Linked DNA regions of Homo sapiens: region 1 is linked to region 2. The links come from fine-mapping of genetic effects on gene expression. A gene starts in region 2. The other region holds a variant in brackets. All regions are shown on one strand. Distances are between the middles of the regions. Region 1 overlaps UBE2R2-AS1 (UBE2R2 antisense RNA 1). Region 2 holds the start of PRSS3 (serine protease 3).

Region 1 (5,373 bases), 44 kb after region 2:
TAGAATTACAGGCGTGAGCCACTGTGCCTGGCCCAAAATTCTTACTTTGATGTATTGGCATCGTGTCCGTCTAAAACACTAGATTCTCTCAGGTTCCCTCACCTTTAATAGTGTGTATGTGATATGGTTCTGGCCAATGACATGTAAGAAGTCTTTTGGGGTGGGCTACCAGAAAAGCTATTATTATTATTATTTATTATAAAGAAGGACAAGCCAGGCGCGGCGGCTCACATCTGTAATCTCAGCACTTTGGGAGGCCGAGGGGGGCAGATCACAAGGTCAGGAGTTCAAGACCAGCCTGACCAACATGGTGAAACCCCGTCTCTACTAAAAATACAAAAATTAGCTGGGCGTGGTGGTGCACGCCTGTAATCCCAGCTACTTGGAGGCTGAGGCAAGAGAATCACTTGAACCCTGGGAAGCGGAGGTTGCAGTGAGCTGAGATTGTGCCACTGAGTGAGACTCCATCTCAAAAGAAAGAAAGAGACGAGAGAGAGACAGAGAGAGAAAAGAAAAGAAAAGAAGAGAGAAAAGAAAAGAAAAAAAAAGACAAGACAAGACAAGACTCTTCTGGAGCATGCCTCTGCCCGTCTTTCTGCTGCAACTTGGGGAAGTGAGGATGAGAGCTCCATGCTAAGGAGGGTGGTGCGGGAAGACACAAGGAACCTGTCTCAGATGAGTTCATATCGGAACCCCTTTCCCAGCCTCAGGCTTCTCACCTCCAGACTTCTCCTTCTCTGAGAAAAACAAACTCCTTACTTGTTTAAGCCGTTGTAGTAGGGTTTTCTGTTCTTGTAGCTGAATGAACTTCTAATGACATGTCATACTTTTTCAGATGTTTATCTGACATACTGACCACATTTTATGTATGCCTGCTATGGGCACTGTGCTAGGAATAAGACAAGTAAAGCTCTGTTTGTCATGGAACCAGGAGAACAGTTAGAACAGAAGTTAGAACTTTAGCCACTATAATAACGGCTACAGTTAGAACAGAAGGTACATAGGCATTTCAGGCTGGGATTCAGGGAGGTTATGTTTGCTGTCACAGACCTCAAACCAAAAGAGTACATCAAAATAAGTCACTGGATTTATACATTTGGCAAATTCTCAAGAGACCACATGACAGAAGGAGCAATAATCTGAACATTGCTTTTAGCTGTAATTCTCCAATGAAGTAGATTTGGGGAAGCAACATGAGGTACTTGCTTTATTTTTTTAAATCCGTTTTTTTTCTTTGAAAAACCACAAGATTGGACTTGACAATCTTTAAGGTTATACCCAGCTCTAAGATATTTTTGTAATTATATGGAACAAAGATGGACATGAAATATACCAAATGAGAGTTTCTAAATTTAGATTCTGACAGTTCAAGTCAGAAAACATATTAAGTGTTCAGGAAAAACAAATCACAATCTTCCATCACAAAATTCAACAAGAACAACAAAAACCACTCCAGAGGCAGCTGTGGTATTCTGGAAGGAATGCTGGTTTGAGCTCCGGCTCTGCCATTTAATTCCTGGCTAACCCTGGACCACATACACAATATCTCTGTTTCCATCTCCTCATTTTTGAAATACGGATTCTAATCTTGCCTGAACAGTGCTGTTTACAAACATCGCCTTGTGCTCTATAAAGCCCCATTACGATTTCAACAACCAGCAAGATAATGGCTTATGATATCTAAGTCCTGGCAAGGAGAATGCAGGTGTGTACCTTGCTATATTCAGTTGAACTCTGCATCACATACAGAAGGCTGATAGACCTTTTAGCTTTCCTTTTTCCTCCAGCGGTGTAGTTTGTGGTCATTTAGTTTTTACACAAGAGAACAGAAAAGAGAGATAAAATTCGCTAAAATTCAGATAGTCTCTTTGTGTTTGTTTCTAGCCTCAGTGAAGGTTTCGGGGAGAGGGCTGGCTGGTTAAAAGGGTAGAAGCTTAAGAGTTCAAAGAAAGTGTGAGGAGGACAGCACTCACCTGTGGCCTCTAATTGTTCATATTCAGTATGGTCTCATACTGGGAATAATCTAGTGTTTGTCTTATGATCTGTCTACACAAACAAATATGGAATGTGTCTATAAGTACCACTAGTTGACACACTAGTGACTTTAATTCTCTTACAATAAAATGTTTTGCAATAGCAAGGACTTTGGCTAGGGGAGTGACTCTGTGTGGTGAAACTGTCCTCACCCATTTTACATTTGAGGAAAAGAGATAATCTTTTGATCACACCCAACACAGTTAACATCTGTACTTTGAACAGCTAAGTATAGCAGCTGATGTTTAACTGAAGGTAGGGGGGAGATGAGAAACAGAAACAACTGGTGCCAAATGTGAGATTCAATAACTTCGCCTCGGCCATCACAACCAACATCAACCAGAAGGGTGCGGGAGGAACTCACGGAATAAATGGGAACAGGTGTGGCCTGAGGATAAGTAAGTGGGGGCACTGTTTCCTTCTTCATGAAGATGTGAGAGGAAATCAAAGCTCTTTAAAAAGAAGGAAGTGGAATGCTTGGCTCCTGTAATATCAGAACAAATAATGCACAGCCAGAGGTCATGCCTCACCTTTTGCTTATCTCAGGCACCTCTGCTTGTAAAATCAGTGGGCCATATTCAATGAAACCTTCATTTCAGTTCCATATCTTTTCCCAGAAACCCCAGGAACAGAGCGAGCCAATATCCTTATTAAACCAAGAAGCTCGCAGTCACGAAGAGCTAAGTCTGACGCCACTGGGCCCCTACCTAACCACGTGTCCTGATTCTTTCCGTAATTTCCCACTGCACAACACCCAGGTTATACTGAAAATATAACACATCTGGTTAAAAACAGTACACGTTTCTCATGAACAATAAGCCATC[C/G]TTTCTATAAAATCAGTGTAAAATTGCAGGTAAAATGCTGTAGGCAGATCTGTTTGGAAGGCTATGCCACCCTAGGAGACAAAAAGGTGCGGGAGGAGGAAAACGGCAGACACGGCAGAAAGCAGTCGAAGAGAACGTGAAAGAAGTGGCCATTTCTGCAACTTTTAGGAGAGCTACCTGCCCTCAAATTTTGAAAGGGTTTCTATTTCTTAAAGTGCTAGGTTTCCCTGGCTGAAACTCACATCTTTCTTCCCTCTAGGGCTGGATCTAAGCTTCAGAGGTTGTTTCTCTGGCCCTAGACAGGGCCACCCCCGCAAATTTCTCCCCCACTGCGCCTGACATCCGCTTCCATCCATGGCTCCATTAACGGAAGCTAAGCACTGGATCGGGGGACTTTATCCACCGCCCAATGTTATTAGATTCCAGGCTTCCTGGCCTCAGGAAAGGATCTGGCTCATGTATTTGTGTATCGCAGCTAACAAGGAAAGGCAGTCGGGGTACCAGTGCCCAGAGCTATGTGAGCTGTGACTGGACACAGCTCAGGGGCCAGGTGGCATCCACGGGGGCGCGCGTTCCCGGACTCACGGGGCAGACGGAGGCCCGGGGCTTCACACCTTCCCCTCACCCTGCAACGCGGCAGACCTGACTCGCGGGGGACTGAGCAATATTCATTCCAGGGCCGCGGCCAGCCGGACATAGGCACTCGGGGGCGGTGGGAGTAGTGTGCGCATCGGTGCCGCAGCCCGGAGGGGGCCCCAGGTGGGCTTCTGCGACACCAGGGCCCTCCATCCCCTCCCGTCCTCCCCTAGAGGAGCCTCCATCCCTGTCCCTGAGCCCCTCCCAGTCGGTATCCCCTCCCTGTCCGCGTACCCTCCCCCGCAGGTCCCATGCGAGTCGGAACCCCCTCTCCATCACAGCCCCGCTCCTTGGCGGGGCTCCCTCTCCCTTCGAGCCCTCCTCCAGTTTCAAGCCCCCTGCGGGTACTGACGTCTGACCTGTGCCCAGCGCCTCGCAGCCGTCTGCATCCCGCGCCGCTCGCCAAGTGCGTCCACCCAGAAGCGGGTGCAGCTCCAGGCCCGCCCCGCCCCGCTGCGCCCCGCCCCGCTCCACTCTGCCAGGCCTGGCAGCCGCCAGACCCTTTCCACACTTGACCGCCCTTCCCGGTCCCGGCCAGCGTGCGGGGCATCTGTCGTCAGGTCCGCACATCCTCCAGGCCCTTGACCTTCCCTTGGAGATGTCTCTGGCCCCAGGAACTCCCTAGGCTGTGTGCTTCAGGAGAGGCTGGTTCCTGAGTCACCCAGGAGGACTGCAACCAACCGGGACCTCCTGGGATGCAAAGAGATCGCAGGGCCTGGGAGGCGGCGAGGAGCCCGAGCACAGGCTGTGGCTCTGAAGAGTGTTTGTTACCAAGCCAGGCAACCACTGCGAACACACCGGAGAAACAGCCACAGATCACCGTCCAGCAAAGGAAGAAGGCACCAACGGTCCATCAGGGACCACAACCCAGTTTTTCTAGTTTAAGTTTGGTGGCTAAGTTTGAGTGTCACATAGTTCATTCATTCCTTCATTCATTCAACAAATCTGCCACGTTCCCATCTGATAACAGATCTGACAGGTGGGCACAGTTCTAGGTGCTGGCAATAGAGCTGAGAAGGAAACAAAGTCCCTGTCCCGGAGAAGGGGGCTTCCTGCTGAGGAGCGCATGACTTTCTTTGTGGTATTGTGCTGTGGCAGCGGGGTCCTCTTCTGTAAGCTACTGAGAGGTGAAGCTGGCTGGGCTTCTGGGTCTGATGGGGACTTGGAGAACTTTTCTGTCTAGCTAAAGGATTGTAAAAGCATCAATCAGCGCTCTGTGTCTACGCTCTGTGTCTAGCTAAAGGTTTGTAAACACACCAATCAGCACTCTGTGAAAATACACCAATCAGTGCTCTGTGTCCAGCTAATTGGTGGGGACTTGGAGAACTTTTCTGTCTAGCTAAAGGATTGTAAAAGCATCAATCAGCGCTCTGTGTCTAGCTAAAGGTTTGTAAACACACCAATCAGCACTCTGTAAAAATGCACCAATCAGTGCTCTGTGTCCAGCTAATTGGTGGGGACTTGGAGAACTTTTCTGTCTAGCTAAAGGACTGTAAATGCACCAATCAGCACTCTGTGTCTAGCTAAAGGTTTGTAAACACACCAATCAGCACTCTGTAAAAACGGACCAATCAGCACTCTGTAAAATGGACCAATCAGCACTCTGTAAAATGGACCAATCAGCAGGATGCAGGCGGGGCCAATAAGGGAATAAAGGCTGGCCATCGCGGCCAGCTTCCCCGTTCGGGTCCCCTCCCACATTGTGGGAGATTTGTTCTTTCCCCTTTTGCAATAAATCTTGCTGCTGCTCACTTTTTAGGTCCACACTACCTTTATGAGCTGTAACACTCATGGTGAAGGTTTGCAGCTTCACTCCTGAAGCCAGCCAGACCAGGAACCCACCATGAGAAACAAACAACTCTGGAGCCGCCATAAGACT
Region 2 (5,373 bases):
CAATAATCTGGGATGGAACATTGAAGAGGAACACTGCCTCTGGAGAGGACTCCAAAACGTAAGTTCTGGCAAGGGACTCTGGCTTTTAGTTTCCAGAATGATCATTGTTGAACCCCTCCCAAGACGTGATCACAGCAAGTTCTCCATTTGTCCTATCTCTTGATTTTAGGAGCCAAGTCCTTGAGACTTTGCATCTCTCTGGTGCCCAGTGCAGAGACTGTGTGTAATGGGCACTAGAAATGTGTCTTAAGCCGGGAGGCAAGAGGATTCAAATAAAGGGGCATGCTTCGTTCTGGAAATTGTGAGGATGGGGGGAAGTAGAAGGACAAAGGGTCCCACTCACCACCAAAGCTCAGAGTGTTGCCCCAGCCGGAGATGAGGCACTCAGTGCCAGCAGCTGGAGGGGTGGTGGGCAGAGAGATGGTGGACACGCGGGCATTGATGACGGCAGGTGAGGAGAGTTTGATCAGCATGATGTCATTGTCCAGAGTGTCCCTGTTGTATTTAGGGTGGCGGATGATCTTGGCCGCATTGATGAACTGCTCATTCCCCTCCAGGACTTTGATGTTGTGCTCTCCCAGTCTCACCTGGATGCGGCTGATGGGCAGGGCAGGCATGGTGAAGACCTTCTCCCACAGCCTGGGCACCCCTCCCACCTTCCCCAGGGTCCTCAAGCTCACTGCTCATGGATAGCTCTGGAGGCATGGGGTGGGGTGTGTGGCCATATTGCATGGGCAGGAGAGGGATGTGGGTCAGTGCAGGTGTGAGACCCAGGACCTTTCTGCTTCAGAGGCTGGTGGTAGTGGGGTGGGGAAGAGTCAAAGGGATCCCACCAGAGGCTGCTCCTCAACCTGCCTTCCCAGCCTCTTTCCCACAAATCTCCACAGTCACTAGCACTGTGGGCACAAAGAGCTCCTCGTAGTTTTCCCAGCATTCTTCACCCCAGGTCTTTGCTAACTGCGCACAGCGCCTGTTCCTCCCTCCCTTCTTGGCCTAGTGAGCACCACCCTTCTGTGTAATCTAATCCAAGGGTAGCCATAGCATTAGCATCTCCTGGGAACTTGTTAGAAATGTAAATTCTTGGTCCTTACCCCCACCCGCTGATCAGAACCTTGGGGATGGGACCCAGTGATTTGTGCTTTAATAAGCCTGCAGGTGGTTTTGACGCATACTCAGGTTTGAGAGTTCTTCGTGTAGGCAGCGGTTCTCAGCTCTGTCTATACACTCTACAGTTACCAGAGGTAGAGTGTTAAATACTCACTGGTATTCACACTGTCTTCCTGAGAAGTTTGAGTTAATTGCCCTGGGGTAGGACACAGGCATCAGTATTTTCAAAAACTCTGTCTTAGGTCGCTTTAATGTGTAGCTAACCAGCAAAAGGTACTTGCCTGCTTTTGTCACTAGCTCTGACAACTCCAAGATTATCCCTGCCTGCTTTTATGACCACAACCCTTGCTGTTTCATGGATTGGCCTTGCTCTGGAGAGTCAGCTGCTGTCAACAAGTTTTCTTTTCCACCACCTCTCCCATCCGTCTTACCCAACCTCAGTACTTCCCTGGGCTGAAGCCAAGCTCTCCCAGGCAGCCTGGCTGGGAGCTTTGCAGTCAGGGGCCCCACACTTACGTCTTGTAGCAGTGAGCTGCTGATACCACCCACTGTTCGCTGATGAGGGAGCCACCGCAGAAGTGGGAGCCAGAATTCAGGGACACCTGGTAGGGGAGAGAATTCTCCTCACAGGTGTAGCCCCCAACAATCTTGTCATCATCGTCAAAGGGGACAGCAACTGGAGTGGAAATAGGAAGGGAGAAGGCAAGTCAGTAGCATGTTAGGGGTGGTGCTCCCAGCCTGCGGTTGCTTCCTGCCAATTAGAAATCCTTAACAAGCCCAGTGAGGCCAGGCAAGGGAGGGAGCGCTGCCACCCCTGGTGAGCATCACTGGATGTGGCTCCCAAGTCTCTGTGTCTGCAGGGCACGTAGCTAGGTACCCTGCAGGGGCTCAGATCTCTCCTGGGGACACCAGGCTGAGGATGCAAGGAATGTCCTCAAAATGCTTCCAGTGGGGTAGCAGTTGGTATGTTGTTGTCTCACCCACTGAGTGCTTCTCTCTTTTATTCATCACCTGTGTACTTGCCCTGGCTATTTGAGCCCTGGATTGTCAGGATACTTTGGCTAAGCTAGGAAAACCCCCTGTCTGGGTAGACCTGGCCATGACTAGCTTCCCCCATAGCTCAGATCTGTGCAGTGAGGGCAGAGTTGAGGGCAGCCCCAGGCTCACTTTGGCATAACAAAGGTAGACTTTGTTATTGGCCAATAGAAGAGCAATTCTTAACTTTGGCGGCATGCCTGGAAACGTTAAAAATCACCTGGGAAGCTTAAAAGCCCAGTACACAGGCTGCACCCCAGACAAATGAAGTTAGAACTTCTAGAGTTGAATCTCTGGCATGAGTAATTTTTGAACCTCCCCAGGTGCATTCGAGGTTAAGAGCAGCTATAGTGGTGCTATACTGGTGCTCTTGGAGCCAAGCCTGAAGCCTGCCACTTCATTTCATGGGCCAGCCCCACCTGGTCTCCCTTCCCAGCTTCTCCAACCACAGCTCGGATATGGATGAATGACAGTGGTGGGAGTGAAATGAGGGAAAAGGTGAAACAGGTGAGGCTTAAAGAGAGCCCAAGGAGGATGGGAAGGAGATATGTCAGATGGAGGAAATAGAATATCAGAGCGCAGTCAAAAGAGGAGAGGTGGCAAGAATGGCAGGGCATGTGTCTGCCAGGAAAGGGGGTGGGTGGGGCCTGAGGCAGGTCATGAAACTCGCCAGCAGCTCCCACAAAGGCAAGGATCAGGAATGGATTCATGGTGGTAGAGTGTGCCTGACTGGTGGTGGAAGGCCTGTCCTTATACCCTTCCAAGAATCAGGAGAGGAGGTGTCTGTGAGGTGAGGGTCACAGTTCTTCCCAGCACAAACACACCTGCAGCTTTCCCCTTGCCAGGGTCTTGCATCAGCTCGGCTACGTTTGGCCACTCTGTGGGTTTGTGATTCACAGGTGATAAGGAAACTTGCCTTCTGAGAGCAGAGAGGGAGACTGGCTATTTCCTGGAAGGATGCTGGGATGGGGAAGACAGGGGAAACCAATCCCCGGATCACACAGCTGGGCTTTCGTAGGCCGAGGAGATGAGGGTTAGAAGGAGGGAGAATGGCCTGGGTGTCTAGGAGTCCTTTTAACTATTGGGGATGTATTTAATAATGTACTTAAGGAAGGGCAAGCATTGGTAACAAGCTTGGCTTTTCAGTTTCCTGGAGCCCCCACGAGAGGAGGAAAGTCTTATCTAAGGCTCATTTTTGTGAATATGAATATGCTTCTTTGCAGTCACTGTGCACAAAGGTCAAATCCAAGACTTTGGGTATCCAGAATTCCAACACTAAGGGGTAAGGAGAAGGGAGACTTAGCATTCCATAGGATTCTGGGCTTCCAGATGGCTCTCCTTCCTACCAAGGCTTAAAAGGATGGGAAGTGTTTCAAAGAAGGAGGGGACACAGGTTAGGTAGGAGCTTACTCAGTGCATCTGGAGGATGGAAAACCAATGGCGCACTCCTCCCCTTCTTCAATGTGAAGCCACTTGTCTCTCTCATGTGCATCCTGTCATAGGTTCTTTTTATGCAGCCTCACGGTTGTCCTGGCAACCTGCACTTAGGGTGATGCAAACTGACTCACCTGCTCAGGGCTGACAGCCTGAACCAGAATGACATGCCCCTGATCAGATGTCAGAGTTTGGACCATGGTAAATCTGGGTTACCATCTGATCTGAGAATCAGCAGTAGGTAGAGATTTTAGCACATGGTAAATGGGTCACATATTGGGATCAATAAGAAGATGTGGAGGGGTGGGTCTAGAATTTTCTATTTTAGATGCAGTGAGATTATGCTGGGCTTAGTATCAAGTGAATCTTCCCAGAGAATATCCTGATTTGGGCCCTACCAAGGCTACTAAGACACAGTTGTGTAATTGACTGAGGCACAACCTGGCCAGAGTAGTGTGGAGATGGAGATGCTGTCTGTGATCAAGTCTAATGATGTAAGGAAAGGAGGAGCTTCCTTATGAGGGTGCTTTCCCTTCTCAGCAACTCTGAGCTCAGGTTGGTGATGGGCAGGAGTGAGCAGAGTTCAAGTTTAAATTCTTTGAAAAGTAAAAGAAGCAGAGATGTTCTGGAGATGGTGAACAAAATGAGAAAAGCTCAGAAACTTCGTGTTGAGATCGGACATGGCCAGGGGGCTAGAGGGAGGAAGCAAATGGAAACCAGAGGGAATTGGAAAAAATGCGAATGTGGGGCCCGTGGAGTTGAGAGGACACACAGAGTACCTTCAGGTTCAGCTCCTGGCATGGCCAACGAGCCAGCTTCCCCAAAGCCAGGAGATCCACTGCTCAGAGACCCGCTCTCCACCCCACATCCCCTCTAATCACTGATGGGCTCATACCTAACACTGCTGTACTTAGATGGTGCATGGTGCCTGACAGCTTTACAAGAGTTTTCACATAAGCAACAGTGGTACATTGCTTTTCAGTTATGCTGAGTTTCACAGTTTGACTTCCCACAAACATGCTAATTGTGATTTGTGCAGAGCAAAATTATTTCCATTTATAGAGGAAGAGACTGAGATTCAGAAGGATTCTGTCTTGCCCAAGAATACAGATCTTGGCAGAGCTCACCATAAGGCCAACGGAAGCCATGGAGATCATTGTGAACTGTGGGAATTGCTGCAGGTGACATCTAAAAGGAGATTTATTGAGGATCAAGGCAGAGGTCCCCAGAGGACAAACTGTGCATCTGATTCCTTCCTCCTGCTTTTCTTCCTGGCAGAAATAGATGATTGAATTCATCTTTCTCCTGGCACCTTGTCTCAGAGACTTCCCTTGCCACAGTTCCAGACCCATCCAGGCCATGACTGCCATGTAGATGACACACCTCTCTGCTCACAAATGACTGGCCAAGCCTGAGGTATCCAGGTTTTGGAGCATTGATAATATGGGTTTTTCCTGTGTTGCCCCTAAACATGTTGTTTCATTTTGTCCCCTTGTCATGGGGTCTTCACACAACTCCTGCCTTAGAGGATAAGGAAAGGCTCTTGCTGTAGCAACTGTAGACACCAGTGTGCACTAAATAGGGAGGTGAACCTTGGCAGAAGATGGAAACTTTTTTTGGAGAACGGGATTTTTGGATCAGTGCTTGTGGCTCTGACTCTGTCTGAAAGGAACACCCAAGAATATGAGGATTTTCTGTATCTAGAGCTTGAAGATTAGCCTTCTCCAGTATTTTGCGCTCTTCCTTAAATGATCACAGTATAGTCTGAGGTCAGCTTTCTTCAAAAAGGAATGACCT

What was found. PIP is the estimated chance that this variant, and not a neighbour inherited with it, causes the effect.
Region 1: its variant is the best candidate, but not a certain one, in a credible set for the expression of PRSS3 in cerebral cortex (GTEx, PIP 0.90).

What each region holds. Positions count from the first base shown.
Region 1 is chr9:33,749,208-33,754,580 of GRCh38, reverse strand. The region is part of intron 3 of UBE2R2-AS1 (UBE2R2 antisense RNA 1); the gene reads left to right. It also overlaps a transcript of PRSS3 not described here. Among named protein-coding and RNA genes, the nearest start is that of PRSS3, 44 kb to the left of the region's middle. The variant C/G (reference allele first, on the strand shown) is at 2,859.
Region 2 is chr9:33,793,053-33,798,425 of GRCh38, reverse strand. It overlaps PRSS3 (serine protease 3), which reads right to left and starts at 2,865. Exons shown (of 5, transcript NM_002771.4): 1 at 2,813-2,865; 2 at 1,624-1,783; 3 at 344-597. The coding sequence starts at 2,852. UBE2R2-AS1 (UBE2R2 antisense RNA 1) reads left to right here. Exons shown (of 5, transcript NR_170204.1): 3 at 1-58. RefSeq lists an enhancer at 1,816-2,316.